Homo sapiens: one gene and its partner. The protein of the gene in region 2 interacts with the protein of the main gene of each other region in a biochemical or structural test. Each region holds a gene or a part of one and is shown on either strand. Other genes may lie near its edges.

The links.
Region 1: the proteins of HNRNPUL1 (region 2) and RPA1 form a complex in vitro, tested with the Homo sapiens proteins (one study listed by BioGRID).

What each region holds. Positions count from the first base shown.
Region 1 is NC_000017.11:1,832,735-1,836,561, forward strand, and holds part of RPA1 (replication protein A 70 kDa DNA-binding subunit), read left to right. Parts: intron 1-3,827. UniProt on the Homo sapiens protein: As part of the heterotrimeric replication protein A complex (RPA/RP-A), binds and stabilizes single-stranded DNA intermediates that form during DNA replication or upon DNA stress.
Region 2 is NC_000019.10:41,291,737-41,295,563, reverse strand, and holds part of HNRNPUL1 (heterogeneous nuclear ribonucleoprotein U-like protein 1), read right to left. Parts: intron 3,320-3,827; coding exon 3,053-3,319; intron 1,227-3,052; coding exon 1,104-1,226; intron 1,007-1,103; coding exon 878-1,006; intron 1-877.

The DNA of each region.
Region 1 (3,827 bases), on a different chromosome or scaffold from region 2:
CTTTTCTGTAAAATGAGAGCAATGATATCTATTGCATAAGGTAAGTAGGAGGATGGAGTGAGTTATTAAATTTAAAGTGCTTAGCACACTGATACATAGTAAATGCTCAGTGTTTATGTTACCTATTAATAATTGCAGTTTTATGTTTGTTGATTTATCAGTTTCTTTTTAAAATTTTAAAATTATTGTGTTTGTTTGTTTGTTTGTTTTGAGACAGAGTCTTGCTCTGTTGCCCATGCTGGAGTGCAGTGGCACATTCTCGGCTCACTGCAACCTCTGCCTCCCGGGTTCAAGCGATTCTCCTGTCTTAGCCTCCCTAGAAGCTGGGATTACAGGTGCCCACCACCACACCCTGCTAATTTTTGTATTTTTAGTAGAGACAGGGTTTCGCCATGTAGGCCAGGCTGGTCTTGAACTCCTGGCCTCGAGATCCACCCACCTTGGCCTCCCAGTATGCTGGGATCACAGGCTTGAGCCACTGTGCCTGGCCTAATACTTTGTGTAAATTCCATGAGGCCTGCAATCATGTCTGGGTTATTTTACTCTGCATTGTATCCCCAATACCTGGAGAAGTGCTGGCAAGTTTTAGGTGCTGAATAAATGCTTGCTAGTTGCATGAATGAATGAGGCAGTGGGAAGAAAGGGACAGGTGAATGGGGAAGAAAGGCAGCTTGGGGGAAAAACAGGAACAGGAAGAACTATTGTTGGACTCAAGTGAATATTTAAATAAATTAGGAATGTGTGAATGCTGAAACCGGGGAAGTGATTTTAAATTGTAGCTTTCATTTACTTTATAGCTGCTACCTTGTGTCTTTAAGACAAATTAAGAATGTTTCTAGGCCAGGCGCAGTGGCTCACGCCTGTAATCCCAGCATTTTGGGAAGCCAAGGCAGGCAGATCACCTGAGATTGGGAGTTTGAGACCAGCTTGGCCAACATGGAGAAACTCTGTCTCTATTAGAAATACAAAATTAGCCAGGTGTGGGGGCGCATGCCTGGAATCCCAGCTACTTGGGAGGCTGAGGCAGGAGAATCTCTTGAACCCGGGAGATAGAGGTTCCGGTAAGCCAAGATCGCACCATTGCACTCCAGCAACAAGAGCAAAACTCCATCTCAAAAGAAAAAAAGAAAAGAATGGTTCTTCACTTTTAAAAAGACTGATCATGGGCCAGGCGCAGTGGCTCATGCCTGTAATCTAAGCACTTTAGGAGGCCAAGGCAGGTGGATCACTTGAGGTCAGGAGTTCGAGATCAGCCTGGCCAACATGGGGAAACCCTGGTCTACTAAAAATACAAAATTAGCTGGGTGTGTTGGCGTGTGCCTGTAATCCCTGCTGCTTGAGAGCCTGAGGCAGGATAATTGCTTGAACCCGTGAGGCAGAGGTTGCAGTGAGCCGAGATTGCACCAGTGCATTCCAGACTGGGCGACAGAGTGAGACTGTCTCAAAAAAAAATAAAGAATGATCATGGAGATATTTAAATAATTTGATAAGTTTTTTTATTTTTTAGAGATGGGGTCTCACTCTGTTGCCCATGCTAGTCTCAAACTCCTGGGCTTAAGCGATCCTCTCGCCTCAGCTTCCCAAAGTGCTGTGATTATAGATGTGAGCCACTGCACCTGGCCATGTTTTTATATTCAAAATTTTATAAACCTATTTCCAGCGTAGGTGAAGTATTTTGTTCATAAATGAAGAATGAAAGTTTCACATGTGTTTGTGGTGATGGAATGAGTTGGAGAACCTTTGCTGACTTTCATTATCAGCTAAAGCAGGTATCATTTTCGTTCAAAAGACACAGGCCACAAAGGGTACGCAAATACCACACACATGTGAAGGCGTTTGGGCAAGAGTCACATGATAAAATAAGAGATGATGCATAGAACTCTTGTGGTCAACAGAATACATAGCATTTGTATCTTAATTATATAACGAAAGGGGAAGGGAACTAATGTTTTTGACTATTTCTAATGTGACAGATGCTTTAGTAGTCAGTACTTAAGTAACCCTAGAAGATAGCTATTATACTCCCATTTTACAGAGGAAGGAAGTACAGAGAGGTTGAATAATGTGTCCATGGGGTGAAGATTTGAACACATGTGCCCTTGAGTATTACATTTGTTGCTTTATATACTTACTAGGGATTTTTTTTTTAAAGGGTCTCACTCTGTTGCCCAGGCTGGGGTGCAGAAGCACAATCTCAGCTCACTGCAACCTTCACCTCCCAGGTTCAAGTGATTCTTTTGCCTCTGTCTCTCGATTACAGACGTGCGCCACCACGCCCAGCTAATTTTTGTATTTTTAGTAGAGATGAGGTTTCGTCATGTTGTCCAGGCTGGTCTTGAACCCCTGGCCTCAAGTGATCTGCCGCCTCGGCTTCCCCAAGTCCTGGGATTACAGACTTGAGCCATTGCACCTGGCCGTAATTTTTTTTAAATGACAGAGTCTTGTTCTTTGTCTCTCAGGCTGGAGTGCAGTGGCATGATCATAGCTCACTGCAACCTCCAACTCCTGGGCTCAAGTGATCCTTCCACCTCAACCTCTCCAGTAGCTGGGAGTACAGGTGCATGCCACCATGCCCAGCTAATTTTTTTTTTTTTTAATTTTGTGTAGAGATGGGGTTTCGCCATCTTGCCTAAGCTGGTCTCTAACTCTTGGTCTCCAAACAGTTCTCCTGCCTTGCCTCCCAAGTCTTTGGGATTATAGGCATGAGCCACTGTGCCTGGCCTTGTCCCTTAAAATGAGTTACATTTGTAAACAGCTGATTTCTTTGGAGCATCGTCCCCATATACTTTTCTTTCATAAGTGATCTCATCCTTCTTCCACCCAACCTTCCCCTTGAATTTGTTGTTTGTTGTTGTTTCCATTTTAGCAGAATTCATGTTGCTCTGATAGGGGCTCTTTTCAAACTGATGTCTTATCCTTCTTAGTACCTCAAACTAGGTCTTGTTCAGACATGTTATAACAAGTTAGTATGAGTTTATTTTAGTGCAAAAAAAATTTTTGAAATGCATGCATAGTTTTTTCATAATGCACATTTTTCGTGTACTTTTTGAATCCCCCTCATACATGCACGTGGTTTTAAAATCAAACGGAACAGAAAGGTGTTCATGGCCGGGCATGGTGGCTCACATGTGTACTCTCAGCACTTGGGGAGGCTAATGCAGGAGGATCCCTTGAGGCCAAGAAAGAGTTTGATACCAGGCTGGGCAACATAGCAAGATCCTGTCTCTATTTCATTTAGAAAGAAGAAAGAAAGAGGTGTTTAATGTAATTACTGACCTCCTGCCTTACCTTGTCCAGTACTGTTCCCCAGAATAACTGCTTTTTAGAAAAATCACTGTCATTGACATTTTGCTTACGTATAGTAAATTGCACCTTTTTTATTTATTTATTTATTTATTTGAGGCAGAGTTTCCTCCTGTCACCCTGGAGTGCAGTGGCGTGATCTCAGCTCACTGCAACCTCTGCCTCCCAGGTTCAAGCAGTTCTCATGCCTCAGTCTCCTTAGTAATTGGGGTTACAGGTGCACGCCACCACCTGGCTAATTTTTGTATTTTTAATAGTGATGGGGTTTCACTATGTTGGCCAGGCTGGTCTCGAACTCCTGACCTCAGATGCTCCTCCTGCCTTGGCCTTCCAAAGTGCTGGGATTACAGGCATAAGCCACCATGCCCGGCCAAATTGCACGTATTTTAAATGTACAGCTTGATGAACTTTGACAAATGTGCGCACCCCTGTAACCACATTGCCCCTGTGGAGATATAGAATACTTCCATCAACGCACAACTCCTCTTGCTCCTTCCCCACCTCCATCCTCACCCTAGGCAACC
Region 2 (3,827 bases):
ATAAGGAGACACCCTTTGTTACTTGTGAAAGCCTTCAGGACAAATGTCAATAGGCAATGACGTTGCATAGGCAATAACCATGTGGAACTCATTACTCTGAGACAGGAATCTGTAATGATTTTTGGGTCACTCATCCTTTTGAGAATGCTGAAAGATAGGGACAAAAAACTGTTTTTTTTTCCCTTCTTTTTCATAAAAAGGATACACCTGCAGCTGCATACAATATTTATGTTCAAATACAAAGGTTCCAAGGTCCCTGATGTTAAGAACTCCACCATTAACTGAAGTGTAGGTAGAAAATATGACTTAGGTATGTACCTGCCAGTCATACGTATTTGTGAAGAGAAAATGACGGAAGCAATAATAGCATTTACCTTACAGCACTGCTGTTGGCATGAAAGCTACTCTACCTATTCTGTAGAGTATTTAACAATAATCACCAGCTACTAAGTGCCAGGTCCTGCGTTAGGGGTGCAGATGGTATTGAGATCCCTGTTTTACAAACCAAGAGATGGAGATTCAGAGAATAAAGTCAGCTGCCCAAAGGCACAGAGCTAGGGAGTAGCCGAGCTGGCATTCAAGCTCCAGTCTCTCAGGCTTGGAAATCCATACTCCTTCCATTTTGCTAAACAGTTCTTACCTGATGTTCTTTGGGGCTGCTGATGAGTCTGAGTAAGTAGGCCTAGATCATGATCCCAGTCCAGGCTCAGCTGTGTGTAGTACCATGTCATCATGTATGACAAGGTCTGACCCCCCCGACTAGCACAGCAGTCCATCATCATTACGGGGGAAAAAAGAAAGGGACCAGAGGGAGATTCTCAGGCATGCAAGGGGTCCCCTCCCTTCTCCTGAGGACACAATGGTCATCATTAAGTACCTGATCTAGGATATAGTTGCGTTTCTTGCGGGCAGCAATCTGGATGAGGCGGTTGAGGCACTGGGTGGCCTGCTGGATCAGGACATCCCAGCGGCCAGCATAGTTCCGCTGCCGGCGTAGGCCCATCACCTGCGGGCAGGAATTGGTGAGGGGTGAGTGATTTTAGTTGCAGGGCAGCACTCAGTAGGTTGGAGGTGAGTAAGGAGAGTCCAGTGGCTGGCCTTACCCGCATCTTATCCATGATGGCATTGGTACCCAGGATGTTGTACTTCTTGGAAGGGTTGGAGGCTGCATGTTTGATGGCCCATGTGGTCTTGCCAGCAGCAGGCAGGCCCACCATCATCAGAATCTACAAGAACAAGACAGGGAAGGTGTTGCGGCATGGTGGTATGGCACCACTTGGCTCGGTGGTGACTGTGAGTGTGACTCTGGACCTCTGAGCTGTGGCTGCCTCTACAAAGCGGAAGCAGTAATACCATCTACCTCACAGTACTGGTATCGGGATTCAAAAAGATCAGGCTTGTCAGACTCTGAGCACAGTGCCTGGGACAGGGTGAGCATTAAGTCAAGTGCTGGCCAGGCACGGTAGCTCACGCCTATAATCCCAGGACTTTCGGGGGAAAACAAAAACAAAAAACCAAGTGCTGTCATCATTAGCATTTATAGTATTTTGTTTTTTTGAGACAGGGTCTCACTCTATTGCCCAGGCTGGCGTGTAATGGCCCAATTACAGCTCACTGCAGCCTTGAACTCCCAGGCTCAAGCAATCCTTCTACATCAGCCTCCAGAGTAGCTAGAACTACAGATACAAACCATCACACCCAGCTAATCTTTTTCTCTCTTTTTTTGGTAGAAATGAGAGTCTCCTTATGTTGCCCAGACTGGTCTCAAACTCCTATACTCAAGGGATCCTCCTCCCTTCTTGGCCTCCCAAAGTGCTGGAATTATAGGCATTTGCCACCAAACCCAGCCCATTTACAGGATTATGTGACCCATTCCCCGCCCCCTGCAATAGCCCAGGGAAGGCTGTGTACTGGGACTGGCCCCATGGAGTGGGTAGAAGTGGTACAACTTTCTTTAAGTATGAAATAGGAACAGAGCTGCACACACAAGGACATGAATTGTATCTAATCAGTACATTTAGAATTTGGTAAACACAGATGCATCTTAAATGCCCGACTAGGGGGGAGTGGCGAGTTTGTAAGGCCATTAAGAATGACGTTCATTCCCTTGAAGGATTTTTAAAAAAGAAAAAATGATGTTCAAAGAGAGGTTTTTATGTGATGGGATAAAGCTCACAAAATAATGTGAAGTGAAAAGAGCAGGGTATCATAATGCTTATACCATAGAATCTCAATGATAAATGTTTGTGAGCATAAAACAGGCACTTAGACATTAAAAAGAACAGATGAACTCCAAAACTCTGCAAGTAAACTTATTTGTAGATGATGGCATTATGAAAATTTAAATTTTTTACTTCTTAATTTTCTAGAACAAGCATAAATAACTTACACATACAAGAAAAATATTGTTTTAAGAAAAAAGACACTAGTATAGCTCTTGGAATCAAATCTTCCCAAAGGCCATTTATCTTTTGATAGCTCTGGGTGAGAGGTGGAACTTACTCAACCTCCTTCAAGAACACTCGGTGGGCCAGGCTCAGTGGCTAAAAAAGTTAGCCTGGCATGGTGGCATGTACCTGTGGTCCCAGCTACTCGAGAAGCTGAGGTGGGAGGATCACTTGAGCCTGGAAGGTCAAGGCTGCAGTAAGCCGTGATCGCACCACTGCACTCCAGCCTGGGTGACAGAGCGAGACCCTGTCTCTAAAGAAAAAAAAAGAACACTTGGTGGCACAGTGCACTCCCCAAGAAGCGCCTAGTGTCCTTTTCTGCTGTAAGAAAAGCCTCCTTTTCCCCTATTCTGGCCTCACTTAAGAAGAAGATGCAATCTTTCTGAGATTTAGGTAGCCTCTCCGACTTCAACTTAGGTCACACCAACACCCCTCACCTCACACTCAGAGCAGCTTTTCAGCTCTGAGTCCAACCCTGAGGAGCTGGGACAAAGTGGCCACTTGCCCCAAGGCTACTCTCGCAGCAAGTCTGTGTGTGTGTGTGTGTGTGTGTCTCCTCTGTCTTGGCAGCAAGGTGGCCACCAATACATTCTGGCCCCACTCACCTCACATTCTGCCTTGCTCTTTGGTCCAACGGTGCCCCGGATACGCTCACTAAGGGGAAGGTGCTGGATGAAGGTAAACCCCGGGAGGACAGAACAGTAGGGCTCTGCTCTCTGTCCGAAGTTGAACTCCACTGCGCAATTCTTCACCAGGACATGAGGATAGAGGGCCTGACCCCCCAAGGCTTCCTTCTGGATTCGGAAAGCAATGCCCATCCACTTTCCATTCTTGGTAAAAGACAGTTCCACGTCATTTCCACATTCAAAATCCTAGGAGAAAAAGCCAAAGGAATATGATTGCCAACTCTTGCCATAGGCACTGGGAGTCAAATGTGAGGACAGTAGATGCAGGGAGTAGAATGTGGACAGCTTTCCAGATTGAAGTGCATCCTTCCCCAACATACAGGTAAGCTGGGCAGCATCAGTGAACATCTCAGAGAATGTCCAGCCCAAAGTCCTCCTTGCCTAAGACCCCAAAGTTGGTGGATATGAAGCAAGTAAGCAAGAGTTTTTTTTTTTTGTTTTTTTTTTTTTTGAGACAGGGTCTCACCCTGTCCCCCAGGCTGAGTGCAGTGGCACAGCTAGGGCTCACCGCAACCTCAAACTTCCAGGTTCAAGCAATCCTCCCACCTCAGCCTCCTGAGTAGCTGGGACTACAGGCATGTTCCACACCTGGCTAATTTTTAAATTTTTTTGTAGAGACAGGGTCTTGTTATGTTGCCCAGGCTGGTCTTGAAATCCTGGACTCAAGTGATCTTCCCACCTTGGCCTGCCAAAC